Linked DNA regions of Homo sapiens. The protein of the gene in region 4 purifies or fractionates together with the protein of the main gene of each other region. This does not show direct contact. Each region holds a gene or a part of one and is shown on either strand. Other genes may lie near its edges. The genes, in order: C1orf198, ROR1, TTC4 and SERPINB13.

Evidence for each region.
Region 1: the proteins of SERPINB13 (region 4) and C1orf198 purify together in Homo sapiens (co-immunoprecipitation; 3 studies listed by BioGRID and IntAct, with this or other methods). This does not show direct contact.
Region 2: the proteins of SERPINB13 (region 4) and ROR1 purify together in Homo sapiens (co-immunoprecipitation; 3 studies listed by BioGRID and IntAct, with this or other methods). This does not show direct contact.
Region 3: the proteins of SERPINB13 (region 4) and TTC4 purify together in Homo sapiens (co-immunoprecipitation; 3 studies listed by BioGRID and IntAct, with this or other methods). This does not show direct contact.

The regions. Positions count from the first base shown.
Region 1 is NC_000001.11:230,858,273-230,865,521, forward strand, and holds part of C1orf198 (uncharacterized protein C1orf198), read right to left. Parts: intron 1-7,249.
Region 2 is NC_000001.11:63,769,440-63,777,172, reverse strand, and holds the start of ROR1 (inactive tyrosine-protein kinase transmembrane receptor ROR1 isoform 1 precursor), read right to left. Parts: upstream 3,157-7,733; 5' UTR 2,756-3,156; coding exon 2,665-2,755; intron 1-2,664. UniProt on the Homo sapiens protein: Has very low kinase activity in vitro and is unlikely to function as a tyrosine kinase in vivo. Receptor for ligand WNT5A which activate downstream NFkB signaling pathway and may result in the inhibition of WNT3A-mediated signaling.
Region 3 is NC_000001.11:54,711,035-54,718,860, reverse strand, and holds the start of TTC4 (tetratricopeptide repeat protein 4), read right to left. Parts: upstream 3,001-7,826; 5' UTR 2,953-3,000; coding exon 2,842-2,952; intron 2,262-2,841; coding exon 2,144-2,261; intron 1,370-2,143; coding exon 1,208-1,369; intron 1-1,207.
Region 4 is NC_000018.10:63,582,526-63,590,470, reverse strand, and holds the start of SERPINB13 (serpin B13), read right to left. Parts: upstream 3,129-7,945; 5' UTR 3,021-3,128; intron 1,821-3,020; 5' UTR 1,804-1,820; coding exon 1,639-1,803; intron 816-1,638; coding exon 756-815; coding exon of another isoform or gene 729-755; intron 1-728. UniProt on the Homo sapiens protein: May play a role in the proliferation or differentiation of keratinocytes.

The DNA.
Region 1 (7,249 bases), on a different chromosome or scaffold from region 4:
CCGTTTAGAAGCAATCAAACCAAGAAGGGCTTTGTTTTCACATGGGAAAAATAAAAGAGGCTGATGGAATGTAAGTATCATTTATTCTAGTTAATCATTCATTAACTCTTCGTGAATAAATGATCTCTGCACAAGCCTGGATATTTTCACAGGTTGATTTTCCTCCCCAGCCTCCACACCCCACACTCACACACCCCCTAAGACTTCACCGGCTCTTCACAGCTCTTAGTTCCAGGAGGAAGAACCGGCCATCCACAGGGTAGAGTAGAGATCCAGCTTTGGATCTTTCGAAAAAGGTAAATGGAAATCAACTGGCAAAGGTGCTCCTTCCATCCAGAATCAGACAGGCCACTGGCCACCCAAATGGAAAGAGGAAGTGCATGAACACCTGCGGGGCAGGCAGAGGGCAGGACCACTGACTGGCCAGGGTGGGGCATGATGGAGCTGGACTCCCCTGTTACTCGATATGATTCTAAATATTAATTATATACCTTAAGTCCCTTTGAAATCTGCAAAGATTAAAATAATAAGGCTTTTGGCTTTGGAAGGTGGCTCAATACAACACTCTGAGGAACGAAGACTTAGCCCAGAGCTTGGGGACAGTCAACTCTCCAGTGACTGCAACCCATATTAGCTGAAATTCCAAGGGGGTCACAGGAGGAGAAAGGGTCACACTGTGATTTCTCCCCTACTTAGTGTCGAGTCAATAGTCTTCTGTTTGCTCCAGCAAGAAATGAAGTCAAGGGGCAGATTCCTTGGGTTTCTGTAATTCTGAGCTCATAAAAAACAATAAAGTGCTTAACAAAAATAAACATGCCAAACAAAAATGTGATGGAAGCTCTGATGTCAGCCGTGGACTGCACGCTCTAGCCACAAAAAAGCACTGGCGGCAAGAACAGGCTCCCTGGGCTGTTGGATGCAAATGGAATCAGAATTGCAAAGTGGCGGCACCCACTCACACGCATACAATGCTGTCCTTTCTTCTACTCCCATGGTGACCAGCCTGCAACCAAAATGAGGCCAGGCACATGCTTTTGGACCAATCACATATGCTTTTTCTAGGACTGCTTGGAAGGCTTTCCCACCCCCCTCTCTGGCGCCTAGGATCTGAAATCATCTAAGTGTCAAAACACATCTGTTACTTAGGCCACACGACAAGAGAGTGGGCTTCATTGTTGGCCAGGACTTATCCTCAGAGTCAAATTCCGTAAGAGGCATCCATACCAAATGGGCAGCACTGAATCTCTCCAGAAACAATGACTTCTTTGGAGTGCAGAACAGAAAGATGCCCCAGGTCACCAAATCCCAGAGCAGAAAGCCAAAAAGCAGGGGGGAAGCTATAGAAAGCCACCAGAAACACAGAGCACTTGGCAATTATCAGAGGCCAGCGCTACATGTAAGAGGCTCTGCCAGTCCCCACGCAGCTCCAAGGACTCCGGGATAAACACACACACAAACAATCTTTTTCCCTAACATCCCAGAGACCTTGAGTATTTGCTCTTCTCTGGGAAATGTTCATTCAATTCAGTGTGCACCTCCTAAATCCTAAATGAAACAGAATTAAAAATAATAACATATATTTTTTGCTCATAGTGCTGGAATACATGTTTGCATCATATCGCCAGCGTTTACTTCTTTACTTGTTGATAAAAAAAATGGATACTGGAGGGCTTAAGAACTCTGTGGTTCCTAGACACTTTTATTTTTGGAGGCTGCAAGGCTGCAACCAGAGGTGTGTTGGAGCAGGCCTGCACCAACTAACGAGAGCTGATTGTAAAATTTTGAGGAATTTCTTGAACCTGTTGTTAAATATCTTGTTTAACTGCTGTGATTAAAAAGGTGAATTATACAAACTTGCAATTAAGTCCATTGTATTAAAAATAAAGGTAATATACTTCACACCCACAAGGATGGCTACTATCAAAAAGCAGATACTGGCAAGTATTGGTAGGATGTGGAGGCACTGGAACCCTTGTGCACTCTTGGTGGGAATGTAAATGATGCAGCCATTATATAAAACGGTTCGGCAGTTCCTCAAAAAATTACACATACAATTACCATTTGTTCTAGCAATTTCATTCCTAGGTATACACCCGAAAGAACTGGAAGCAGGGGCTCAGAGATCCTTATACCCCGATGTTTATAGCTGTGCCATTCACAATAGCCAAAAGATGAAAGCAACCAGGTATCCACTGACAGATGATGAATGCATAAACAAAATGTGGTCTATCCATCCAATGGAATATTATTCAGTCTTAAAAAGGAAGGAAATTCTGATACATGCTTCAACATGGATGAACCTTGAAGACATTATGCTTAGTGAACTAAGCCAGACACAAGGATAAAAATCATGTGATTCCACTTATATAAGGTACCTAGAGTAGGCAAAATCATAGAGACAGAAAGTAGAATAGAGGTTATCAGAGACTGAGGCCAGGAAATGGGGAGTTATTGTTTAATATATACAGAGTTTCATTGTTTAAAGGATATAGTTTCACTTTAAATAATACACGAGTTCTGGAAATGGATGGTGGTGATGATTGCACAACATTGAGACTGTACTAAATGCCTCGGACTATACACAGAAAAGTGGTTAAAACGGTAAATTTTATGTTGTATGTATTTTACCACAATAAAAAGTCATGGAAAGACATGGAGGAACCTCAAATGAATATTATTAAGTGGAAGAAGCCAATCTAAAAAGGCTACATATTGTATGATTCCAGCTATATGATATTCTGGAAAAGGCAAAACTACAGAGACAGTAAAAAGATCAGTGGCTGCCAGAGCCTGGGGGGCGGGAGGCATGAGCAGGTGGCACACAGAGGATTTCTGTTAAGGCAATGGATCCCCTCTGTATGATACCATCATGGCGTATACCTCCAAGAGCGACCCCTAGTGTAAACCAGAGACTTCGGTTGACAATGATAAAAACAATGCAGGTTCACTGATTGTAATCAGTGCACCACTCTGGTTTAGGATGTTGGTGGTGGGAAAGGCTGTGTGCATATGCACGTCTGTGTGTACATTTTGGGAAAGGTCTGTGTGGGAACTCTCTGTACTTTCCGCTCAATTTTGCTGGAACCTAAAACTACTGTAAAAACTGAATTTTTTTAAAGTGTGCCCCCCCCAAAAAAAGTAATAAACACTAGAAACTCATCATTTCAATACAGTTACTATTATCCATGGTCTTAAGGTTGTTTGCATCCATTGTATGTGTAAGGTGGAAATACCATATAGCGCGGTGCCCAGATATGCATCCCGTGAGTCACGCCAACAGCGTGCAACGGGCCATGGTGGAGTATCTGGTCATGGCAACCAGCAAATGCTAGAAGTCAGGGCTAGTTCGCCTCACTCCCCCAGAGCCGGCTCCAGCATACCACAGGCTACAACCATAACAAACATCCTGATATTCATCACATTCTGCAAGTGTTTCTGGTGTGTGGATGGATAGCGCCTGCAGAGGGAGCTGTCCAGCATGGGGGCTCCCTTAGGGCCTCCACAAGCTGTTCCAGGAAAAACAGCTAGGCGGGGAGTGAGGGGCTTTCTGGGGTGATTCTAAAACAGCATCAGGATCTTGGAACACGGCAACACGCGTATTGATGCCAGAAATGGTCATCGTCTTCCTGAAATCCATAAATAAGGAGAGTTTCTGGTTGACACCTGTGGCATCTTGGCTTGAAGGTAAGAAATGTAAACTGAGAAATTCTATAAGCTAGAGAAATAAGGCTTAGAGAGCAGAGCATGTGAGCAGGACAGAAAGTCCCATAGGTTGCAGAGTGTGTCACCCTGTAGTGATGCCAGGTGGCCTGGCCATCTTGGTTCATCCAGGGTGGAACACGTTGTTCCTGGTGAGCTGTGTCGTGCCCATCACTCCCTCAGAGATGCCAGAGCCTGTCCTGTGGATCAACTGTAAGGTTTAATTACCGAGTGACAACACTGGTTGTTGTCACTGATAATGACAGCACCCTGGACATGTTGACCAACTGAGGGCCTCCCAACCACAGCTCCATGCACAACTGTGCTTCTGCTATAGTTATTTCTATATTTATTCCTCCACAAATAAATATATTACAGGAGTGAGGTAATCACATTCCTTGGCATTTACCCAGATGAACTGAAGACTTACGTCCACACAAAAAACCTACACACAGATGTTTTACTCATAATTGCCAAAACTTAGAAGCAACCAAGATGTGTTTCAGTTATTGGATAAGTAAACTGTGATACATCCAGACAATGGAACATTATTTAGCAAGAAAAAGAAATGAGCTACCAAGCCATACAAAGACATGGAAGTACCTTAAATGAGTATCACTAAGTGAAAGAAGCCCATCTCAAAAGGCTGCATACTGTATGAATCCAACCATATTACATTCTGGAAAAGGCAAAACCATGGAGACAGTTAAAATATCGTTGGTTGCCAGGGGTTGGGGGGATGGAAGGATAAGTAAGTGGAACACAGAGAATTTTTAGGGCAGTGAAACTCCTCTGTGTGATATTATAGTGATGGGTACATGTCATTATTCATTTGTCAAGATCCATACAGTGGACAACCCAAGAGTGAACCCTAAACTATGGACTTTGGGTGGTAACGACGTGTCCATGTACGTTCATCAGCTGTCACAAATGCACCACTGTAGCGTGGGAGCCAGAGAGGCAATGAGAACTTTGTACCTTCTGCTCAATTTTGCTGTGAATCTAAAATTGCTCTAAAAAATTAAGTCTATTCAAAAAGAGGAGAGTAAGGAAGAATGATTAAAATATGTTCTTTTTTTACCAACTGCTTATTTTCAGCAAGCATTGTTTACATATTTATGGAATCCATGCTTTTCCCTTTGACTTGTAATATTTTTAACTCTGCTGAGATAAGGGGGTTTCCATAACTGGAAATACAACACTGCAGTTGCAAAGACAGAAAAACAGTCCTGATTTAACCATGGGGCATGTTTTCCACCATGAATACGAATCCAGAAACTCAAGCCTCCATAGATTACAGCAAAACAAAAACTCAGCATGAGCATGGTAATGGAAACAGGATACAGAGTAGGTGGAGGAAATGCTAAAGAAATGAGCAAAATATGACAGGAAGTCTAAACAAATAGGTCTCATCTTCCTTCATTTATTCAGAAGAAGAAGAAGAAGAAATAGATATTTTCTCCAGTACTATGGGAATCCCTTGCTTAGAGTGTAAAAGTGACTCTTATCAATTAAAAGATGACTCCACACCTGTCGCCATGCTTCCTGCCCTCCCTCCCCGCAGGTCTGTGACCAAGTCACTTCATTTCTTTGCTAAACCTGTTCCCTGGCTGCCACTGGGCCACCCTCCCACAGGAGCCAGCAGGCAGAGGTGCCTGGGGAGGAGAGGCCTAAGCTGCTGCCTGAGCTCCCAGGGCAGCAGGCCACGTGCTACTCAGGGCAGAGAACCCACAACATAAAAGGGAAGCTCACAGAACAGGCCCGACCGCCCTCTCCTCTCAGCCCGTGGAACTGGAATTGAAGCAGGGCCATCTCAACTCCTGCCCAGGGCCCCAGGTAGAGGGACTCAGAAAACCCTGCTATCCTTTCTAAAACATCCATGGATACAGCAGGCACAAGGTGGGAATCATAATTCAAACATCCACCTTCCTTAAAAAATGAGTCCAAAATGCTGAGAAAGCAACTCCCTAATTTTCTTTTTCCTTTTTTTTATTTTTATTTTATTTTTTTAATGTCAGATTTCAAAAAGAAAAGGCCAGTCTACTAAAGGGAAAGGGGATGAGGAAACTTCATGTGTCATTGGTCCTGCATTGAGAGGCCACACAGCAGCCAAACTCAAATCTAACAAAGATGTAAGGCTCAAGAAAGTTCTGAAGCGATTGATTCTACCAGCTGTTTTATAATGCTCCTTCTGCCTGGTTTGAAACTTTTAACAATAATGTACAGGTAAAAACTTTTGTAATAAATTGGTTTATTTTAGAAAGCAAACCTCTAGGCTGGCCAGCACACAGGCCCCTAGGTTTGCAGAAAGGTCTTTTGCAGGTAGCCCTAATGACACAGAGCGGGTGTAGCAGCTCAGCAGTTTGCTAAACATAGGTACCCATAGCCGCCTCTAGCCTAAGGACTAAGAAGCCACAGGCAATGCAGCAGACATAGGGAGGCAAAAACAGCTTCAGAAAAGGAAGCTAAGGCCAAGAGGAATAAGAGAGCAACAGCAAGTCCTCAGGTTCCTGTAGGAGGAGCAGAGATGAAGGCACTGGAGGGACACGGCAGTGGATCATGCCAAGCTGTTGAAGAGGGGACAGAGCTGTCTGGCTCCGGGTTCTTTAAAAATCCACGTTCCACAACATGTGAAACCCCGATTAGGGATATTGAAACACCCTTCTTGCCCAGCTCCACCGTATGGAGAGATGGAAGAGGCAAGTAGGTCCACGCGAACAAGACGCACCAGCTGCCAAAGCTCCCCCAGTCATCTGCTTAGGGCCCATCTGGAGCCAAGAATGTATCACAGAACGCAGAACCCTGTAACTCTCACCATGTACTCAGATCTTGCTAGATCAGTGACAAGAAGATTGGGGGCAGGAGCAGGGAGGAACACATTCCTAACAATTCAGAGGTGTGTGGGGTTTTCTCCTTGCAGATAACAGGAAACAGCAGAAGCAAACAGGGTGATCCCTCTAAAATAAAAACTTTTCCCCTCCCAAACTAAGCCATTCCCGAAACCCTACTGCTGGAGGAAGAACGTGGCAATCAAGCAGCGTGGGTGAAAGACTGTCAAAAGCATCCATTTGCAAACCTGCCTTAATGTTCTTACCAAAATACTGGACCCAAAGTGCACGGCCCCAGTGTCTGGGCCTGCTCCAAGCCAGACCAGCGAGTTGGAAAGAAACTCTGTGAGCCATTGGTTCTGCCACCAGACTTCACAGAGAGGCAAACTACCCCTTAAGAGGGGTGGCACCTTGCTGCTGGCATGGCCAGGACAAGAATCCAGGACATGGGGCTCCACCGGCTCCTCTCCTTTTGCTGGTTGAGAAGCGTTCTTCCAGCAGCAGCTCCAGATTCTCCACAAAATGGGGTTGGGTGGCTGTGGGAAGGGGCCGGGGCCTAGGTTGAAGCTATACTTCCATGCTTTTTTACTGAGATCATATGTTCACACGTGGGGATTTTTAAAGGAGTTGGTAAAGATTATGGGAGGATGAAGTACCCTAAGCTAAAATGCCTTGTCTCTAATATAATGGGCCTTGAGAAATATTTGCTCTGTTGATTTCCA
Region 2 (7,733 bases), on a different chromosome or scaffold from region 4:
GGGCTTGGGTGCAGTTATAAGGTAAGCTTCAGGTTCCTAAAGAAGTTGAGCTTTGCATAGGGAGGGGGTAGATGAGAAATCAACAATGGACAGACCAGAAAAAATAAATTTAAAGGTTTTCTTCTCCTGGCTAACAAAATAGAAAAATGATGGGAGAAATGTTTTGTATCTTTTTAAATAAATACATGAAACATATCTCCGCTTAAGCTGATTTCCTGAGCCACTGGCTGGGCTACCTTAGGAATCTTGAGTCCAAGAGGAGAAAGTAAACGTGAGTTCTACCAGAAGTCTTGACCCCAGAGAAAAGATCAAACATTCACAAAATGGAAAGGGATTTATAAAACAACAAATAAGACAATAATAACAGATTTGAGCTCATTACTAAAGAGTATGGTGAGAGAAGAGAGACAGACCCTCTCATATTGTTTTATATTGTTTTATACTCAGAAAAGGAAAGAGAAGCGAAATTAAAGGCAGGTAGCCCGGCACCTAGGAACCAGACCTGAAACCAAGGAACCAGACCCGAAACCAGGCCTGGGCCTGCCTGACCTAAGCCTGGTACTTAAAGATCGACCCCTGACATAACTGGTTATGTTATCTATAGATTCCAGACATTGTATGGAAAGACAGTGTAAAAATCCCTATCCTGTTCTGTTTCGTTCTGATTACCAGTGCATGCAGCCCCCAGTCATGTACCCATCATGACCCTCTCACGTGGACCCCCTTAGAGTTGTGAGCCCTTAAAAGGGACAGGAATTGCTCACTGGGTGTCTGAGGAGTTTTGTCTGTGGCTCCTCCTGCTACAATGGAATAGGCAATACCTTTTTTAAACAACTCTAAAAGGCTGTAAACAGTTAAAGGAGACAGAATTGGGGTGGCTGCTGATAAGAAGGGTGTTTACAGTGAGCAAAATCAATGCAGGGACATGTATTTAAAGGTAAGTGACCCCCACCCCCACAAGGGGCTATGATCTAAAAGCAACTATTGTTGAAAGGTGAAGTACAAAGTAAAGGAGTCCACAGGGGAAATAACTGAATTAACCAAAGCCCCAAGCCAGGAGTCCCACCTTAGTTAAAATCACCCTGCTTATCTCCACCTCAATTTGCTGGGCAACCCAACTTGAGAAGGATGTTTACATTACTTAGGCAGCATGGCCCATTTTTACTTTTCACCCAGGTGTTGTGGCGCAAGGCCAGATGTTTGGCATCACCAAGCAAAACATCTATGTGACCAAGCTGTTTACATTTCATTAGGATTTTTCATCAGGAAGGTGCACTCCCTGCTGATGCACATCTTAATTACAATTAGGAGCTCTATTTACCCCCAGGAGCTTTCAGATTAGCACGACCACATTATAGGATCCGTTTCAGAAATCATCCTCAGAAAATGCTACTCTAGCTTCCAAAAACCATCTCTAAGAAATCAAAATTTCACACAACTTCCTTCCAGAGTGTGTTTTCTACCAAGAAAGTCAGCTAACTTTTAGTAAAAACTAATTCTGCATTCGTAGTCTATGTAGTGAATACATCTTTTTCCTCTCAACTGCTAAGTAGCGCAGAACTTTTTCTTTTCCTAAACACAGTGCTAACTTAAAAATGAAAGATGCATGATAAAAGAGCAGAGATCTATTTATCCGCTCAGGTTTAGGGCTGGGAGTGGGGGAGGGCAGAATCCAAAGGCTCCTCACCCCCTCAAGGGATGCATGTTAAAAGTGAGGCCCGAGACCCCGGAGACTTTAATCAACTTTCCCCCTCCAACCTCCAAAGAATGAATCGGTTGTCTCCACAGGCTCAGCCGGGCTCTTCCCTCTCATTGTGTACCGGCTCAGACGCAGCAAGGACCCCAGCTTCCCGCAGCGAACTAAGACGCTCCGGCTTGCGGTGAAGTCTTTCTCTAACTGTTGCGATTGTCTTTAGAGATTACCAAAATCAAATATGCATTAGATGGCTTTTCCCCCTCTTGTTTGTAACACGCACACACACACGCGCGCGCGCGCGCGTGCACACCCAAAGCACTTTGGAGCCGCAGGCCGCCTCTGACAGCACATTTTGCACAAAGTGGCAGCGGCTGCAGCGGCGCACAAGTTTTGGCCTCTATGATGACTCTCGGGAGGGCCGGAGGGCCGGGGGCGGTGGCGATGCGAGGCCGCCGGAGCCCCAGGAGGACAGGGCTTTTGTTTGCGTCGATCCGCGAGCCGCCTGGGCTCTGGCGAGCACCACTGAAAATCCAAACTCCCTCCTGGACCGCGCCTTCCGGGCCGGCTCGCAACTTGGGGGCAGGATAGACTTGCCTGAACACCGGCTGGGGCGCGCTAGAGGTCCAGGGAGACAAGGGGGGACGCCCTGCACAGAAGTGCCCCGATCACCCCCAGGACCCTCAAACCCCTCCACGCTTCCTGTCAGCGCTGACAATCGCTGCTGCGCACCGAGGAACGAGTCCCTGGGCGCGCCCCGGCCCGCCGCGGGGCTCCGGGGCAAACCCTGGCCTGGCGGGGCTCCGGGGCAAACCCTGGCCTGGCGGCGCCGGCGAGCCCCGTGGCGGGTGGCCGGACGCGCCCCGGAGCCAGCGCGGCGCTTCCTGCGTGTCCCGCGCCCGGCTGGACGGCGGAAGGGTGGCCACGGGTCAGGGGGTCTGGGCGGGCGGGGGCCGGCGGGCGCCTCTTACCTTGGGCAGCAGCCCCGCGTGCGGCCAGCAGCAGCGCGGCCAGCAGCGCCAGGAGCGGCGGGCGCGTCCCGCGGCGGCGCGGCCGGTGCATTCCTCCTCTCGCTGAGGCGGCGGCGGCGGCGGCTCCCAGGCCGCGCGCAGAACATCCACGGGCTCTTCCCGGGCTCCCGGCCGCCTCGTCCCGGCCGCTGGCGCTCGCAGGACGCCGGGGACGTCTGCAAAGCTCTTTGTCCCTCTAACCTGCTCCCTCGCCTCCGCCTGGCCGCCTCTGGATGCCGCGAGCGCGATCCCTTCCCAGCCCTCTGGCTGCAGCCTCGCCTGGGCCGGCGGGTCAGTCCCAGGCTGTCCGGGTCGCACCAGTGGGCGTGAGTCGCCCTGGGTCGGACTCCGAGAACAGCGCACCCTGCGCCCAGGGGCTGCCGTCCCGGGGCTCCCTCGGCGGCGGCGGTGGCGGCTGCTCCAGCTCTCCACGCTCCCTCTCTCGCTCAACTTGTCACTTTCCACCAACTCTCCAGCCCAGCGCCCCAGCCCCGACCAATGGGAGACGCGGCCCAGGCTGGCGACCCAGCGCCCTCTGCTGCAGCCTCTCAACGCCCGCACCCTCCCCGACTTCGCAGAAAGCGGTCGCGGCTCCCGCGTCTCGGGCACGCTCCCTCCCCTCCCCTCCCCCACACTCCTCAAACTCGCCACCGAACCGAGCGCCGGGGACCTTCGAGGCTACTTGACAGAAGGGGAAACCGAGGCTCAGAGAGACTTATCCGGGATCTCAAGCCAGTTCGTGGCTGGACGACAGTAGACCCAGGTTCTAGCAGCCTCAGCTGTGTCACTGTTAGCTGTGTGACTCTGGGTAATGGCACATTTATTGCTATCATACAATTTCCCTTTTGCTTTCTTCTTGGACCCAAGAGTTGAGAGAGTTCTTACACAAGTAATTTATACTTCGCCTTTTTGTCTTTAATTTGTAGTCTCACTGAATTCAATGTCATCTGTACTGCCTCCTGGCAAGATTTATTGAGGATTATCTGTGGTTATTTTTGCCAATGTCCCATGGTTTTTTGAAAGGTGTTTTTGTCTTCCGAATGTGAAGATAGAATACTGTATCGATTTATCTTCTTTGTATTCATTATTTTTTCAGGCCTTCTGAATCTTTGCATGTTTGTTTGTTTGTTTGTTTTTTGTCTAGCTGCTCTGCCATGAGCCAAGGGATCATTAAAGACCTCTACAATGAGTGTGTTTTTGTCCATTTCTCCTGGTTTAACTTTATGGATTTTGTAATTCATAAATACCCATAATGATTTGACTTTCCCTGTAGAGACTGCCTTTGATCATAAAAAGTGGTGAGCGCCTGCTGTTTTCAGGGCTGTGCTCTAGGCTCTGAAGATGCAAGGGTAATAGGACACCTGTCAGTCTTGCTCTGGAGGAACAGGAAGAAGCCCATAGTCTCTCAATAATCACGTGGCCACTTACTAAATACCTCCTGTTTGCCTTGTGTTTTATATGCATTTGCTCACAAATCCTCCATTGACACTAAAAAGAGTCATTAAAAGTATATACTTCTTAGCTGTTTTACATATATTATCCCCATATTACAGTTTTAGAAATTGAAACTCAAAGGGAAAGTAAATGACTTGCCCACAGTCTCACAGACATGGGGTAGCCAAGCCAGCACTCAGGCTGTTTCCACTGAGAGAGTTAAAGCCTGTAACCAGAGCCTGGCACATGATAAGCACTCACTCGGGAGTTGTTGCTGTTGCAGTAGCCTCTAAGAACCCAGCTTTAGGGTTTTAAAATGAACAGTCACTTCATGGAGGGCGAGGACTCTGTCTCAATCATCTAGGTATCTTGCTGGCCTCTAACAGTACCTGGAATGCAATAGGAGCTCAATTAATGAACAAAGGTTAGGTCACCATTTGGAAAATATTAATTTCTCATCATATTTGTTTTATAGGGGTGCATGGAGGAGGGACAAAATTTCATCCATACTCCTTGGCACCAGGAAAAGCAGATCCCTGAGAGCTGAGACATTAGAAGGGGGAAAAAATGCAGCCCAAAGTATGTCCCAGCAGGTCATGGACTCCAGACTCCCAGCCCTTTGCCTTCAGGCAGGTGAATGACTAACCCATGCGGGACAAACAGTCACTTATTCTTCTCCAGGACTTCATGGCAGGAGCTGTGTCGGTAGTTTTCCCCCTTTCTATCGCTCTGACCTGAGGTCAAAAAATGATAGACAGAGAGGCCTTGGGTCAACCAGTTCATTACCTACATTGATCTGTCCCCCAAGTTTCTCTGCCTGAGATCTATTCAATCCTGTCCCAATTATCTCGCTTCTTGCCTGAGGAACTTACTGCACAAGGTTCTCTTGTTGGGAAACAGTCTTTGATGGTCAGTCTTAGTATATCACAGCCCAGAAATCAGAGGATACTCAGTTACACTGCACAGTGCTGGGCAGTCCTCTGTTGTCTACAGTCAATACACACAGTTGTCAGACAAGGAGCCTTTCTCATCCACCCACCCTGCCCCCAGCCCCCACCCTATAACTCCTAGGCCCAGGTATCTTAGGTAACAGACAGCTGCTAGTGCTGAGTATACAGAACTTAATGGCACTTTTATCAGTACTTAAACTTCCAGGAACTTAATCACAGAATCATAGACATAAGGAATGTGAGACCTGGAAAGGGCTTTGGAAATTAACTAGTACACCCCCCTCAACATTTTATACAGGAGACATGTGGGACTTAGGAGAGTGAAACCGCCTTGCCCAAAGCTGGCCAGAGCCAAAACTAGGACCTAGACCTACCAGTCCAGACCTGGGTAAGGACCATCATCAAATCATCCCAGATTCCTTCAGTTTAGCTATAGCACACAAGTTTCCAAAGAAAAGGTTAGCAATGGCCTGGCACGGTTGCTCATGCCTGTAATCCCAACACTTTGGGAGGCCAAGGTGGGTGAATTGCTTGAGATCAGGAGTTCGAGACCGTCCTGGCCAACATGGTGAAACTCCATCTCTACAAAAAAATACAAAATATTAGCCAGACGTGGTGACACACCTGTAATCCCTGCTACTCGGGAGGCTGAGGCATGAGAATTACTTGAGCCTGAGAGGCAGAGGTTGCAGTGAGTGGATATAGCGTCACTGCACTCTAGCCTGGGCAACAGAGCAAGACTCCATCTCAAAAAAAAAAAAAAAATGCTGGGGTGGGGGGGTGTTAGAAAAGGCTTTTCCTGTTTAAAAAAGTAAAAGAGGTAAAATATATATAATATGCAAAATATATATATGTGTATATGTATATTTATTTATTTATGCAAGTTCAGTAAATGCCAATGTTTAAGAGCACAGGCTGGGGAGCTGGGCTGCTTGGTCTCAAGCTTCAGCTTCTCTGGTTTCTGCTGAGTGACTATGGACAAATATCTTAGTTGCCTGTACTTTTGTTTCTCACCTGTAAAATGATGATGATAATAATAGCACCTATTTCATGCTGTGGTTAGTGTTAATTGAGTTAACTCTTAGAAAGTGCTTTTATGAGTATCTGGCACAGAGAGACACCTAATAAATGGCAGATATTATCGTTATTATTATTTACTGCATGAACCTACTTATATCATCAAAATAAGGTTGGTCTTAGCCCATTTTTAACAAATGGGCTAAGTGAAGTGAGTTTTTAAAACTTGCCCAGAGTCAAAAAATTAAAGCAAAAAGGCAGGACTCCATCCCAAGTCAAATATCTCTCTACACTATACACCACTGTCTCAAACCCCTGGTGGGCTATGATAAAAGCTCCAAGCAATCTAAATGTTCCTCTCACAAGCCTCTTTTGGCCATGCCCTCTCTTTTAGGAAGCCAGAAGTTGACACAAATGGATAAGAGAACCCAGGTGAAGCTACTCACTTCCCAGGGGCCTGGCACAACCTGAGGTACTGGCTGAGGCTCCTGCTACTTACAGAGGCACTCATCTCCCCTGGCCTCTTGCACTGGCACACACGGTTCTGTTTATTATCACTGTAAGGCATAGTGGGAAAATGGAACAAGAGCAGGGCAATAGTAAATCATTGGGGTCAGGTGCCAAGGGGAGCATTAAATAGAAAACTATCTTTCATTTCAAAAACTTGCTGGTGGGAGAGACTCATTTGGGCCATCCGCTTGATTTACCCAACAAATACAACCATTAATTATTCTTGGAGAAACGGTGTAGTGTGATGCTTACCAGGAAGAGTTCAGGAGCCAGACTGCATGGATTCAAATCCTGCTCTGCTCTTAATAGTTGTGAGTACTGGGTCCCTGTATTTTAGTTTCTTCATCTGTAAAGAGGCATAATAATAATACCTACCTGTAGCTTTGTTCTGAAGATTAAATTAGTTAATACCTGTAAAGAATTTAACATAGTACCAGTTACACAGTAAGCAGCCAATATTTATTAGCTACTATTGTTAGTGATTAAGAGAATGGACTCGGGCTGGGCGTAGTGGCTCACGCCTGTAATCCCAGCACTTTGGGAGGCCGAAGCAGGCGGATCACGAGGTCAGGAGTTCGAGACCTGCCTGACCAACATAGTGAAACCCCATCTCTACTAAAAACAAAAAAATAGAAAAATTAGCCAGGCATGGTGGTGTGTGCCTGTAATCCCAGCTACTTAGGAGGCTGAGGCAGGAGAATGGTGTAAACCCAGGAGGAAGAGCTTGCAGTAGGCCGAGATTGCACCACTGCACTCCAGCCTGGGCGACAGAGCGAGACTCCATCTCAAAAAAAAAAAGAGAGAGAGAATGGACTCTAACATCAAACGGAGCTGGCTAGATGACCTGAACAAGTTGTTTAATTTCTTTATGATACAACATTCTCACCTGCTAAAAGGAGAGAGAGACAGATAATAGAACCAATCATATAAAGTCATTTTTAGTATAAAATAATGTACTTTATACTTTGAATACAAAAGTCACAAAACAGTGTTTGGGGAGCTGGGCATGGTGACTTGTGCCTATAATCCCAGCTACTAGGGAGACTAAGGTGAGAGGATCTCTTGAGCCTAGGAGTTTGAGACCAGCCTGGGCAATATAGCAAGACCCTCATCTCTGTA
Region 3 (7,826 bases), on a different chromosome or scaffold from region 4:
GAGCTCAGGAGTTCAAGGCCAGCCTGGGCAACATAGCGAGACCCCTGTCTCAATTAAAAAAATAAATTATTTTTAAAAAAAACCCACAGGTCTAACATAACCAAGACTAGTCACCAGCAATACTACTTAAATAATCATTTCCCAAATTTACGACTACAGAACCTGCATGATGTTGGTGTTACCTGAAGAGGAGGCTTACAAAATTTGAGAAACCCAGGGTAAATTTATTTTCTTGCAGGCTATCTCAGTGTCTTTAACATGTTAACATGTACTGTAAATCTCTAAGAAGCAGCATTTTCCAAACTTCCTCAATCTCCTGGGTGCGGTGGCTCACACCTGTAATTCCAATACTTTGGGAGGCTGAGGCGGATGGATCACTTGAGCCCAATTTCGAGACCAGCCCGGGCAACATGGCAAAACCCTGTCTCTACAAAAAAATGTAATAAAGTAAAAAATATGAATAAATAAATGAGTTAAAATTCCTCATCCAAGCAACTTTTTAGAAACAGGGTCTCACTTTGTCACCCAGGCTGGAGTGCAGTGGTGTGATTATGGCTCCCTGTAGCCTTGAGCGATCCTCGTGCCTCAGCCTCCCAAGTAGCTAGGACTACAGGCAGGCACCACCATGCCCAGCTAAATTTTTGGAGAGACAGGGTCTCACTATATTGCCCAGGTTGGTCTTGAACTCCTGGCCTCAGGCGATCCTCCTGTCTCAGCCTCCCAAAGTGCTTGGATTACAGGTATGAGCCACTGCACCCAACCAAAAAATATTTTTAACTCAAAGGTCCCACAGAACGCTTTGAGATATTCTCCCTTAGATTAAAATAGCTTATCTCACCTAAAGATCTCTACTGCCTTACTCCTGCTAGCATCCTTGAAAAGAGGATAAAAGGCCAGAAAAACACATTTTTTGAGAGAGTAGAAGCCCTTGGGCTCAAAAATCTCAGAACATACTGCCTCATACATCAAACACCTTACTTGAGTGACCAAGTCACTTTTTGGGTTGAGACAGTAAGAATTACACAATCCATCCTGTTTCTCTTTTCATCATGTCAACTTGGAAGACCAGAGTTCAATCAGAGTAAACTATCCTTAGTCTGGGTTTCTGGGATAACAGCCCCTCATCCTCTGATGTTCTCAAACCTCCACTAACCATCATAATGGCTTGTATCATAAGTTTATTCTTCAGAAAGCACTTATAAATTACCCAGATAGTACTGTGCTGCTGCCCGGTTGGTATAAAGGACAGCATTCAAATCAGGATCTGCACATTTCTTCTTTAAGCCTTCAGTGTATGAAATTACAGCTTTCTTGTAGTCTTTTTCTTTAAAGTAATCATTGCCCTCATCTTTATAGGTCTTGGCCTGTTCTGCAAAGAAGAGGAAAAATAATCACTATTGCTTACTTTTTAAAAGGCTCATTAAAAATAGATTCTAAATCATGTAATAATGTACTATATGACACACCAAAGCGAAGAAACCAATAGGGAAAGGAAACTCGATGTTATGATAAAAGTGGGTATCAACATGGACAAAGTCGCACAAATGTAATGCTAATTCCAAATATCTTACAAGGTAGATTACTAAGTGCTTTCCAAAAAAAAGAAGTATAAAGGAAAAAAGTACACTCATCCTAGCTGTTGAAGAAAAGAATTTTTTTTAATCACTGAAGAAATCAGTGAGGGGCAGGGGGATTGATTATACTTCTGCTTTTGCTTATGTTGTTTATTCTGTGGAGTGCAAATTCCCCTCCTCACCCTAGTAAAAGCCTACAAAATTACAAAGATTCAGCTCAAATTTCCTATCTATTGTGAATCCACTCCTGCTCCTTAAAGTGTTCCAACAGGACCCACTACAGCTGTAGTATACACCTACATGTTGACACTTATAGCATAAGTTTGTCTTGATTCTTTAAGACAAAAGGCTTCTCACTGAGCCTGACCTTGGAGGGTGGAACTGTGTCTTATTCACCCCTGTATCCCCAGTCCTTACCACTTAGTAGGTACAAAAAGAAGTATATTGGAATGAATAATGACAAGTTAGCTCAGGCTAACTACTTCTTGTTATCAATCAGAACGCTTCTAACCCACACTTAATTTCAGTTCAATGGAAACACAAAACAAATATTAGTCATGTTAAGATACCTTCTGGAGAACGCTCCTCATCAAAAATAATTGACTGGAGACAAGCCAAGTCAGGATTCTCCCTGGGATCAATTTCTGATGGCGCTCTCGACATAAATAGGGGGACCTTTTCAAATTCCTGTAAATGGTTAAGAATGAACTACATGAATAAGCTTTTCTACTGAGCAGATCCAATTCCATGACTCATTACCAAAGTTTTTTTACTCATCATGATTTGCAAATCATCACAGCTAGCTGTATCCATTCAGGCCTCCGCTTCCCTTCTGTAAAATGGGAGTGTGGTGTAATGGTCTCTAATGATTGTTTTAGTTCTCACATTCTACAAGAGCGGCAGGAATTACCATTAATTGAGCGCCCTTATGTTCTTGGCACTTTACCAACTGTCTCATTTCATCTTTGCTATTGGTGATATAGTTCGCGCAGTTTTACAGATGAGGAAACGGACTCTGAGAAGTTAAGTAACTGACTCATATCAGAGCCAGTTAAGTGGTGGAGTCACAGGCCTGACTCCAAAACCTAGGTTCTCAGCTTAAGAAGCGACTCAAAACCTCGAGGCCGATTTTCAATACTCAACTAGAAACCAGCGATCGGCTGGCAGCGCCAGGGATCTGGGATTGAAGGAGGTGCCCCAGAGCCCGGGTGCCCCACGAGTCCGGACGACGCCCCTACACACGTGGGGAGACCCCAGGACCGCCCACCTTCTCCCACTGGTCCTCATGAAAGCCGCCACGGTAAGGCTGGCTCTGGAACTTTTCCAGGAACGAGTCCATGACGTCGTCTGAGGTGGGATCCTGCCCAGGTTGTTCCATAGCTGATGCCCTGCCTTCCAGCCCGGGTCCCAGCGCCGTGAAGCGAGCGGCTCCTTCCGGCGGCGCGGGTTCCCTTCCCTCAATCCTCCCGGCAGCGCAGGTCCCCGCGCCTTGGGTTCCGCCGGCCTGGGGGCGTGGCCGGGCGTGGCCAATACGCTCCTCCCCCGGCCCGCCCTCCTCGGCAGTGCCTGGCCTCGCCCGGCCTTCGAATGCTTTTGGGGTGGTGCGTGAACCCGAATCCCCAAAGCCCCCATCTCACTTCATTCATTTGTTCGTCAGTCAGTCAACACATACTTACTTAGCTCTTTCTGCGCTTCCGGCCTGTTCTAGTGGCTGGCTATATAGCGGTGGGCAGAGCAGATGAAATCTCTGCCCTCTAGGAGTTGCTAAGGCAGTGGGGAGGAAACGACAATAGTTGAGATGTAAGAGTTTGTCAGGGGTAGCAAGAGCTATTGGGGAAAAGTTTTAAACAGGATGGGTAGACATTCTGCCAGAGGCCTGGGAGTGACTAGGAGGGGTCTGGGAAAGGCATTCCCATGGAAGGAACAGGGAACAGTCCGGAAGCCTGATGCGGGAGAGTCTTCTGTGCTTGGGGAACAGCAAGGAGGCCAGTGGGGCTGAAGCAGAGTGAGGAAGGGGGCAAGGAGATGATGAGGTGGGAGGACAAAAGGGCTGTGACTATGAGGATTTGGCTATTTCCTCAGTGGTATGGGACCTTTTGGAGAGTTTCGAGGAAAGGAGAGACTGATCAGACCTCTGTCTCTGAGCTTAGCCACCCCTAACTCCCACAGTTCAGATGGAAAAGGGTCTTCGGTCCAGGTGCTGCAGGCCTGGTTAGGCAGCCGCTGTGGCTTCCTGCAGCCTCTCTACCGGCCAGCAAATGGCTGCAGGTCCCTGCACCGGGGCTACAGCCTTGGGGAGCTCCTAGCCTGGTCTGGAATGAAAAGCAGACAGGAAGCACACCAATCTAAACTGGCATTGGGTCACAGGTCTGCTCAGTGAAGGCTCAGAGGGGTGGGATTCAAGGTGATGCAGAGCTGAGATCAGAGCTGAGGAAGGTCTCTGCAGATGGATAGAGGACTCAGCGTTTTAGGCAGTGGGAGCTCATATGTGGAGAGAGGCATGGAGGTGTGCACAGGCCCGCCATGCTGGGTACTGCAAGTGTTAAGAGGTGTGTCCAGGGCCGGGCACGGTGGCTCACGCCTGTAATCCCAGCACTTTGGGGGGCTGAGGCGGGCAGTTCATGAGGTCAGGAGTTCGAGACCATCCTGGCTAACACAGTGAAACCCCGTCTCTACTAAAAATACAAAAAATTAGCCAGGCGTGGTGGCACGCACCTGTAGTCCCAGCTACTGGGGAGGCTGGGGCAGGAGAATCGCTTGAATCCGGGAGGTGGAGGTTGCAGTGAGCCGAGATTGCGCCACTGCACTCCAGCCTGGGCCACAGAGCAAGACTCCACCTCAAAAAAAAAAAGAGGTGTGGCCGGCAAGTGGGTAGGGGCCAGAAGGCCTGCCTGCCTCACTGACCTTGGTCCTGCAGAGGATAATGAGTCACTGAAAAGACCTAAGAGGAGCAATGGCCGTGAGCACATTTGTCTTAGGAAGGCCTGGGCTGCCAGGTGAAGCATTGATGGGGGGAGGTTGGTTAAGAGATTGACAAGGAGGATGCTGATAAGAGACCAAGGTAAGACAGAGATCTGAAGCCCAGCAGTGGAGCTGGCAGGGTAGTCATTCTTTGATATGGGGATGGAGACAGCATGGCTAAGGATGGCGCATGGGGACCATGAGCCTTCCAGTGCCAGGACTTTATCTTTTCCCTTCTGATTCTTCCACACCCAGCAGAACATCTGGTCCTAGCACTCCCTTCCCTCCAAATCCAAACCTCCTTTTCCACACTTCCTCCTCCAGCCCTGCTCCCTAATCCTGGTTCCCTCCCTTATTCTCCTCTTCATCATCTTTTCCTTTACTGAGTCCAGAGCCTACAGAGTCTTTTTGCTTTCTTTTTTTTCTCATTTGATTCCCATAAGAACACTGTGAGGTATGAACCCATTTTATAGGTAACAATAGGGGAACCTAAGAGAAGCAAAGTGACTTGCCCAGCACACTCTGAACCTTCCAACTCAAAACTACTTAGTGGTCTTGGCCGATAACTGAGTCGATCAGCCTTTGCTGTGCTTAGGGGCCACCCAGACCCAAAATATAGCAGCTGTCATCTGTCAAGGCCACCCTAGACCTGGGTCCTAGCCCATGAAAGCAGAAGTGGTTCTGGGTGGAAGGGTTCAGGTATAGGAGTCTGGAGATCTTCGGGACCTACACTTCCATTAGTTACCTTGCATGACCTTGGGCAAGGCCCATCCCTCATTAAGCTGTGTCCTCATCTGTGGAATGTGGGCAATAAAGCCAGTCTGCCTTCCCCATAATCCAGTCTGCCTTCCCCATAATCCAGTCTGCCTTCCCCATAATCCAGTCTGCCTTCCCCATAATCCATTCTGCCTTCCCCATAATCCACAGGGCTACTGTAAGACTCCAAGGAGGCAATGTTTGTGAACATTCTCAGTGATGGAAAGGATTGTGCAAATGAATCTCCCCATTTCCTACTCTCTCTCTCAGGCCCAGAATACCAATGGCCTGGGCTACCATTTATTAGAAGATGATTGTGTGGTCAACATCATGGGTTCCTCACCCCCAACAGGAGCTTAAGTTAGGTGCTCCACAGGCTGATGTCTCTGCCCACTCTACATACTCTCCCAGGGAAATTGTACCCCAGCCCCTACACACAGATGAATCCCAAATCTGCTTCCTTCTCAGGTCCCTCAGCTGAGCTCCACCCGTGTCCCTTTGTGCCCGCCATAGTCTATTCAGGCTGCTATAACGGAATACCATCAACTCTGGTGTGTAAACAGCAAACATTTATTTCTCACAGTTGTGGAGGCTGGGAAGTCCGAGATCAAGGCCTGGCAGATTCGGTGTCTGGTGAGGGCCTGCTTTCTGGTTCACAGATGCCATCTTCTCAGTGTCCTCCCATGGTGTGAGTAGTGAGGGAGCTCTCTGAAGGCTCTTTTTTATAAGGGCACTAATCCCATTCACTAATCCCTAATCACCTCTCAAAGGCCCCCACCTCCTAATATAATGACCTTGGGGGTTCGGATTTCATATGAATTTGCAGGGACACAGCATTCAGACCACAGCGGCAGCCAACTGCCCTGTGGATATCTCCACTAGCTTGCTGCACAGTCCCTCAAGCTTACCATGCCCATATTGAACTCATCCCCTGCCCCACAACCTGCTCCTGGTCCTGGGTTCACCACTTAGTGTGGGCTCCATTGGCTTAGTCATCCACCCAGAAATCTGGGTGCCAAACTCAGCTCCTCCCTCTCCCTCCTCCCTCCTCCATTCTGTCAACCACTAGGCTCTGAAAATCCCCTTCCTCAGTCTCCTGCAGGCCTGGCCATCCTCTCCATTTTGTGCTGCAAGGTCTGGTCACTGTTCTCTCAGCAGTTTCTGGCTAAGTCTCCCTGATGGTGCTCTTGTCCACCCTGCCATCCAGCCCTTTCACTCCATGACATAGTGAGCTTCTTCTGCTTCCTTTTTTATTTACTCCCTTTTATACCCCAAAGCCCTCCTCCTTACCCTAATCAATCATTCTAGCATGTTTTATTAGCATTTTTTTGTTTTGTTTTATAGAGATGGAGGTCTCACTATGTTGCCCAGGCTGGTCTTGAACTCCTGGCCTCAAGTGATCCTCCCACCTTGGCCTCTTAAAGTGTTGGGATTACAGGCATGAGCCACCACACCTGGCCTCTAGTGTGTTTACTGTGTCTTCTCAGTTTCTAAGTGTTCTTCCAAAATGTGAATTCTTTTGTGTGTACATTCTTTTTTTTTTTTTTTTTTTTTTTTGAGATGGAGTTTCACTCTTATTGCCTAGGCAGGAGTGCAATGGCGCGACCTTGGCTCACTGCAACCTCCGCCTCCCAGGTTCAAGCGATTCTCCTGCCTCAGCCTCCTGAGTAGCTGGGATTACAGGTATGCGCCACCACGCCTGGCTAATTTTGTATTTCTAGTAGAGACGGGGTTTAACCATGTTTGTCAGGCTGGTCTCGAACTCCTGACTCAGGTGATCCACCCGCTTCAGGCTCCCAAAGTGCTGGCATTACAGAAGTAAGCCACCGCGCCTGGCCAACTTTTGTGTATACATTCTTGATACACTTTTTCCCCTCAGCACTGGGTTTTAGGTCCCATCTGGCAGCCCCGAACTGCTGTGCAGGGCTCCACGGCACACATACTCTCCCAAGGGGTGGATACCCAGGCTGCCTCCTCTCCCCACCACCACAAAGAACACTGATCAACTTCCTCATGCATCTCTCTTTATGGACCTGTGGAATATTCCCCCGAGCTATGTATCCATGAGTGGAACTGCTCAGTCGTGGGTATGCATGAACTTAATAAGACTGAAGTGACCGAATAATGACAGATTTCTACAGATTCCAGAAGAGCGGCACCAATTTACCATCTTACCAGCAGTGCCTGAGGGTTCCTGTATCCCCAGGAGGAGGTGCCTTCTAAAGCAGGCATCTGTCTACATCCCTCCCCTGCTTAGCATCCCACAATGCCTTACCACTCCTATCTGGATGAAGTCTCCCTCCTTAACACAGCCTCCAAGGCTTCCGTGGCTCTAGCCTGGAACTCCTCTCCCCTCTCTCTCTGGGCTGTGTGCACTGAAGGACTGCAGTTGTTCCTTGGTTCCATGTGTCCTGCTCCCTTCCATACATGTTCTTTCCAAACCCCCTGCAGGGGAGTTTCTTCCCTCAGAAGCCTTATCTGACACCTCACCGCCTGCTGGTCTATGTACCTCCTCTGGACGCTGAAGCCCGCATG
Region 4 (7,945 bases):
GGGTTGTGAAATGAGCAGCTCCTATTGCTGGGTGATCTGAGCCATGGTTTTATGAGGGTCTGGAATTGCACTATGACTACTGTCAGAGCAGCTGTGCCCTTCCTGAGAGTGCTAACGTCTGATCCTAGCCCCGACCTAATGGGCTTATTCCTTTCCCATATTTGAGTAGACTCTCCTTTGGATGGCGAATACAGGAACACTGGAGCTGGAAAAGACCTCAGGAAGTCATTGGGCCTGTAATAATTTTTTAAATACAACATCAGCACGGGGTTAAAAATATGAGTGGAGTTTAGCAATAATATCACCTACTGCTACTACCACCACCACCACTGGCTCAGTTGCCAGATGCCCCTACTGCGGACTTTACAGAGGCTGAAAGAAGATAAATAACTTGCCCAAAGTAGCATCGCTCTTAAGTGACTGAGCCAGGACTTGGACCTAAGTCTGTTTAACTCCAAAACCCATCCACTCTGCTATGGGAACTTTTCTGTCTATTAGCCTTTACCAGTTCTATCATAGCGGTATTGTCCATTACACCTAAGGTCTCTTCTCAATATTAAGGGGTTATTATTATTGTATAATCCTTACAACAATATTTGTCTATGGTGATTATTATTGCTTAATAGTAAAGCAACAATATTGCTTTCATGCCTTTCTCAGTCCTTTTCCCCAGAGACCCCACACCTAAAATGCAACTCTACTGAAGTTTGTAAAACACATCTCCCCACCTCTTTTCCTTCAGCCTTTATTCTTACCACCTCTTTTTCTTCAGCCTTTATTCTTGAGCTCTTCGTCTCTTTTTCAGAGTGAAACACCTGGAAGAGATAGAAAATATTACTGTGGTGCTCAGAGAAGAGAAAACCTCACACAGAATCAGTCAGGGGAGAGTGGACGCTTCTGAAAGAAACCTCGGTGGTATATGAGGTGACATTATCTCCTTGCAAAATCAGAAAAAGGTCTGCGTTTACCTCTGATTTTTCGTGTGTGTGTGTGTGTGTGTGTGTGTGTGTGTGTGTGTGATGGAGTTTTGCTCTTTTGGCCAGGTTGGAGTGAAGTGGCATGATCTTGGCTCACTGAAACCTCTGTTCCTGGATTCAAGCGATTCTTCTGCCTCAGCCTTCCGAGTAGCTGGGATTATAAGCACCTGCCACCACACCCAGCTAAGCTCATGCCTGTAATCCCAGCACTTTGGGAGGCCAAGGCGTGTGGATCACCTGAGGTCAGGAGTTCAAGACTAGCCTGGCCAACATGGTGAATCCCCTTCTTTACTAAAAATACCTCTAATTTTTTTCTAAGGAACTCGTATTGGCTTATGTGTTCCTGTGTTCATCTTGGATGTGTCATTTTTACCCTTGTGGGGATTATGTCACTTTTTCCATAAGTACTTGGACAAGGTTACGCAACCAGTCTCTACTCAAAAAAATTTCAAGCATCTGGGAGCAGGTGGCGAGATGGTATTTGGAAAAGGAAGAGGGCTTTCCTGATAGACCTGAAATTGCTCCTTGTCTTGAAAGTCTCTGTTTCCTGGTCCACAGGTCAAGAAGAGCGTATTTTTAAGATAATGCAAGAGGGCTGACAACCCCCCCGCCAAATGAATTTGTGCATAGGAAACAAGGAAGCCCCCTGACTGCGCCCAACCTCCTCCAACTGGGAAGCGGTGGCTCCTCGGGTCCCCAGGAGGACCATGCCAATTGCAGTCAAGATGCCCACAGGGGAAAAGAAGATGTTGCCATCATTTGTTTTCTTCAGCTCTTTGAAAAGATCAAACCCAAGTCGAGTGCTGACGGCGCCAAGTGAATCCATGATGATTTTAGCGAGACCTAGAATAGCAAGAACAACAATCAAAACTGAACATTTGAATTACTCTGTGTCAGGGGAATCCTTTCTGCTTCTATTCCTCTTCTTGCATCGATCCGGAATACAGGGATTTCCACCCTTTTGGTGAAAGGTCGCTGCTGCCTGCTTCTCACGTCCTCTCTTGGCCTTCTCTTGCTGGGAGACATCCATCAATCTACTGGAGTCTTCCGTCATCCGGTGGTGCTCAGTTCTTATTTCCCCGCGGAGCAGGGTTAATGTTTTAATGGCTTTATTCTCTTGCTCTCTGTCTGACCCTGCCTGTCTCTGCCTCTCCACAGCCTCCTCTTCATGGAAGCTTCCCCAGGTAGACCCAGCCCTTGTCCAGGCGACACCAGTTTGTCCAGATGTGGGGCCCATGATAAGGCAGGGGGGTAGGCACAAGAATCTCCACGGGCCTCAAGTTCAAACAGTGCTCTCAGATCCAACCTTAGCAATAATTAAGCCGAGACTTGAATCCTTATCTGATACTATTTCTCAATTGATTCAAAATTCAGCCCAGAGAGTGACAGGATTGATTAAATCTCTTAAACCCCTTTCCCTAACTGCATACAAACTTGACTCTGGGCTGAATTTTTCTGAAGCAGAAACCACATATCTCTGGTCATGAATTATTAGGTGGAGATGAAAGGGTTTTCTTTTTTATACTTTTCTGTATTGTTTTAGGCTTGTACATGAGCTTGCATTACTTTTGTCATTTCACAAAAATAGTTTTTAAAGAGCAATTAATATTTGCCAAAAATAAATAGGTAGAACTGTTTTTATGTTTGCTTCATTACCAACTACTTTAAAACTAGTAAGTAAAGGCTTTAGGAGGAATCCTAAAACAAGAATAAGATTAATGAAAAATAAAGTTTTTTAAAGCCCACATACTTTGGGGCCTTTTGCCCTCAAGGGCTCATCCCCGCTAAGGCATCCCACATCTGATATCAAAGCTTTCATTTCAACCTCAGGTTTCCTTGCAGAGATCCTTTACAGGTTAACTCAGAAATAAAATGGATTAATTTACTGTCAAAGAAGATACATTGTCATGGCCATGTTGGAACTGAATTAAATAAAACTACCTCCAGAAAGTCTATGCAAAATAAAAGTAATTCTTTCAAACAACAAACATCATTGTTCTCAAAATACAGAGGTCTTAAATTGGAGCCAAAATAAGAACTTACCTCGGGTTTTTGGAGAGACGGTGGTGGCTGGGCAACGAACTAGGAAGCATAAGTCAATTAAGTAGCTGGGATCCTTAATTTATAGTTCTCCACATCTGCTTCAGCAGTGGTTTTCCACCTTGCGTGCACCTTAAAATCTCCTTGGAACTTTAAAAAAAATCTATGCCCAAGCCCCACCCCAGACCAACTGAGTCAGCATCTCTCGAGTGGAAACCAGGCATCAGAATTTTTATCACCGCAGGTGATTACAATGTACAGCCAACGCTGGGAACCAAAGGTGTATAGCCTGATGAACACATACATTAAATGCATACTTTACTTACCACAGATGGACAGAGCTGTGTCCTGACAAGTCATTCTCTGTAACAGAGTTATTTTTGCATTTGCATTATTTAGGAGTGCCAAATGCCAGGAAGAAAATGAAAGAAAACTATCTTGCTACAAAGGAACAAGAAAAAAGAACAAGAAAAGTTTGGGTAGGCAGCCACACACAAGCGAGCATGCGCACACACACACACGCACACACACATACACACACACACCTATTATTCTCAAGTATTCCATCCATTAATTGTAAAATATCTCATTTTAATTCATTCAATAAACATTTATCAAGTCTATTATGTACCAGGTACTGTGTCTAATGCCAATAATTCATAAGCACTCAATATCCTCACTGATTTCAGGAAAACAACACTACCAAAAAAACTCAATAGGAAATTACACCCCCAGATTCCAGTTTTTCCTGCCAACCCTGGAGCATTTCTACTGGCCCTACCAGTTCATTAAAAGAAACTGTGCTTGGATTAGTCTTAGCTTTAATCTTCAGTAAAGGGCGTGGAGATTTGCCATCGTTGCTGGGCAGCAGCTCCTAGAAGGGTGTCTTAGCTCTTCCTTCTGCCTAGAGGAACACCTCCCTAGATACGCAGGCTCGAAGGGCATATGGGTCATGTGTGTTCCAATCTCCATACTCACAATTTACTTTTTTCAAAATATTTTGATTGCTGCTCTTTAAGCAAACTCAAAGCCACATTTAGTTGATTTGCTTTTTAATAGGCACTGAGAATCTTGCAAATTGAGTAAGGTTTAGAAAGAATTAACACTTAGTGAACCCTGGATGCCAGTGAAATGGAAATGTTAGTTTTTTAAAATGGCATAAAATCTCTGAGTCGGCCATAATGCTTTATGTTTTAATATCCCTATCCATTTATATCTTCTTATTTCTTTCTCTGTGGCCCCTAGACTTCCTGTTCTATTGCCCAGCCATTTCCACAGGCCTTCTGCTTTTTGCTAAAGCTTTTGCTCTACCACCTGCTTTCACCGGGAAACCTGGCATGTCCTGAGGACTACTACATCCCATAGTCTTTTCTGGGAACGGCCACTCATATCTTGGGAAAGCAAAGTCACCATTCCTATTCTCCCTCGCACTCCCTCTTCTTCCAAGTCTTTCTTCCTTCAGTCACCTTCAATGCTCCCCTTTGGAAACTTAGACCATCACGCTGTGCTGCTCTGTCCCCAACCACAGGTCCCTCCGTGACTCTGCATATGGTCTTCCTGTCCACCCCAGCTGCTACCGCCACCCTGTACCACTTCACCATTCCTGTTGCCAGCGCCTCTCACTTCTCGGACCTTCACCTTCCCTCTTTTATAGTGGCCCACTCACACCAGGAACTGCTCTTGTTTAACACTCAAGCACCTCCATCTGGTGACAGATTCTCATCCTTATTCTCTCTAAACCTAATTTTCAACGCCTTCCCAACCTCTTATCACAGGACTCCTCCCTGTTCTGTTTTATCCATCTCTTCTTTCTAGGATCAAAACTGCCCCAGAGGTGGAATATATGTTGATGATTAAGAACCATTTAAAAAATGATTTCTATGCTAACAAGTGAGGAGAAGAAAGTTATCCCCTGAAGCAGAGTATTGATAGGTTCCCAACCCTGTTCCATAGCTCATAGTTTTGTTCCAACTTCTGTGTGTCTGTTACTGATACTGACTTGTAATATTTTTCTTCTCCAAGCATGTAATCTCGTAGTGGATGCTGCCGATGTTCCCACCAGATTTCCTTAACCTACCAGCATGCCTGTTACCCAGTTGTTGTTTTCCCTTATAATTCACAGATGCCCTTTTCTCGGCTAAAAGAGAGCTGCCTACGGGGGAAGCCAGGTACCACTCCATCCCCCGTGCCAGGGCACACCTCAGGCATGACTCACTGGCATAAGGGCATAAAAAGACAGCCCCTGGCTGGGCGCGGTGGCTCACGTTTGTAATCCCAGCACTTAAGGAGGCAAGGCGGGTGGATCACCTAAGGTCAAGAGTTCAAGACCAGCCTGACCAACATGGTGAAACCCTGTCTCTACTGAAAATACAAAAATTAGCCGGGCGTGGTGGCACATGTCTGTAATCCCAGTTACTCAGGAGGGTGGGGCAAGAGAATCGCTGGAACCCAGGAGGTGGGGTTTGGAGTGAGCTGAGATCACGCCATTGCACTCCAGCCTGGGCAGCAAGAGCGAAACTCCACCTCAAAAAAAAAAAAAAAAGAAAAAGAAAAAAAAAGACAGCTGCCTGAGTAAGACTAACTTTATAGTGCCACTTCTCCTCCAGACCTCCCCCACAAGATTAGACTGAAGCCAGTCTTTAGCAGAAACCACATGATTAACATTTCCCCTTGCCTTGTTCTGCTTCTTTCAAACAAGCATGCTCCCCATCACGCTTTTCCCAAAAATTACCTGAAAAATCCCTGTCTTTAGCTCTGCTTCTAGGGTGCCTCACCTATGACAAAAGTGTTGTGATATCTAGCCCAAGCCCTCATTATTTTTGCTTTCCAAAAATTTATTTGCAACCTTGCATATATTCTCTTTAGATAAAATTTTTAATTAGTTTATCAAGACCTATGAAAAACACTTTTGGGGTTTAGATCGGGACTCTTTAGAATTAATATGTTAAATGGGAAAATTTTTCATCTTTACATAATGAGCAAGCGGTATGATCATCTTACATGTCCTTCAATAGTTAATAGAAAGAAATCACGGGGAGAGAGACAAAGGAGAGAGAGAACCAGTTTTCTCTTTGTGATGAAAAACAAAACAAGCATGTTCACCGCCGCTGCTTCCACTCAAAATTGAACCAGAGACCCTGACAAGTGCAATAAAGCAATTAATTAACTGATGAATTAGATAATTATTTAAAAGGTAAGATAATTTAAAAAGAAAAATAGAATCATTCACAGAGGAATTGAGGTAAATGTTATGAGAATTAAAAAGTGAGTTTAGCAAGATTGCTGACTACAAGGTCAATATAAAAACTCAAGTGTTTTTAATATACTAGCAACACACAGTTAGAAACATTTTTAATATATTATTTAAAAGAGTATAAAAAAGCTATGTGAGGCTGGGCATGGTGGCTCATACCTGTAATCCAGCACTTTGGGAGGCCGAGGCTGGCAGATCAGCTGGGTTCAGGAGTTAGAGACCAGTCTGGCCAACATAGCAAAACCCCGTCTCTACTGAAAATACAAAAATTAGCTGGACGTGATGGCATGCACCTGTAATCCCAGCTACTCGGGAGGCTGAGGCAGGAGAATTGCATGAACCAAAGAAGTGGAGGTTGCAGTGAGCCGAGATAGCACCACTGCACTCCAGCCAGGGCGACAGAGCCAGACTCCATCTCAAAAATAATAATAATAATAAGGTATGTGAGGTAATACTATGTTAATTAGCTAGATTTGGTCATTATGCAATGTTCTATACTTCAAAACACCTTGTATGTGATAAATACATATAATTTTATGTCAATTGTTTTAAGATAATGAAAAAAGCATCACGTAACTAGTAAATATGAAAGATGTTTAAGACTCCATATAGAAAAAGATTAAACATAATTTAGAGAAATTAAGAAGACTGAGTAAATAGAGGGGTATATTTTATTTGTGATTTAAAAGACTCAATATTGTAAGGATGTCAATTTTCTCAAAATTAATCACTGCAATCTCAATCAAAATCTCAGGAAGCTCATTTTTTCAAAAAATTGGCCAGCTGATTCCAAATTTATATGAAATAGCCAAGGGCTAACAACAGCCATGACACTGTTGAAAGAGAAGGAGGAAGAGATAATACCTGCTCTGTCAGATAGCAAGGTTTATTATTAATTGTCAGAATGGTTTTTGGCAAAGGATAGATCAGAACAGAAGCCCAGAAAAATACTGATGCTCGTGTGCACCTTGATTTTGTTCAAGCTTGTTGCAGAGCAGTGGAGAAAGAATGGTCTCTTCAATAAATTATGTTCAGTTCATTGGATAATTACATGGGGGAGAAAGGAATCTTAACTACTACGTCACACCATATACAGATTTCCATTCTAAATGGATCACAGAGCTAATTGAAACACAAAAAAGCATTTACAGTAAGAGTAAAAATTAACAAACTGGACAACACAAAATTTAAAAGCTTTTATTAATCAAAAAACACTATCAAAGTTGGAGATACATATATATCCAAAGTTGGATATATATAGATACACCCCATGACCTAATAATTTCACCCCAGATATTTACCCAATATAAATGTGTGCTCATGGGCACCAAGAGACATGTGCCCATAGCAGCATTCATAATAGCCAAGTACTGGAAACCCAAATGTACATTAACAGCATAACACGTAAATAATGGTATGTTCACACAGTGAAATCCTACACAGCAATGACAATGAATGAACTAAAGCTACAGGCAAAAAAAAAAAAAAAAAAAAAAGATAAATATCTCAAACAATATTTTGAACAAAAGAAGCCAAATGTAAAAGAACGCATACTGTATGATTCTTTTTATACAAAGTACAAAAGCAGACAAAACTAAACTTCAGTTTACCCCTAAACAACACGGGGTTAGCGATGCCAACCCCCCTCACAGTTGAAAATCCAGGTATAATTTTT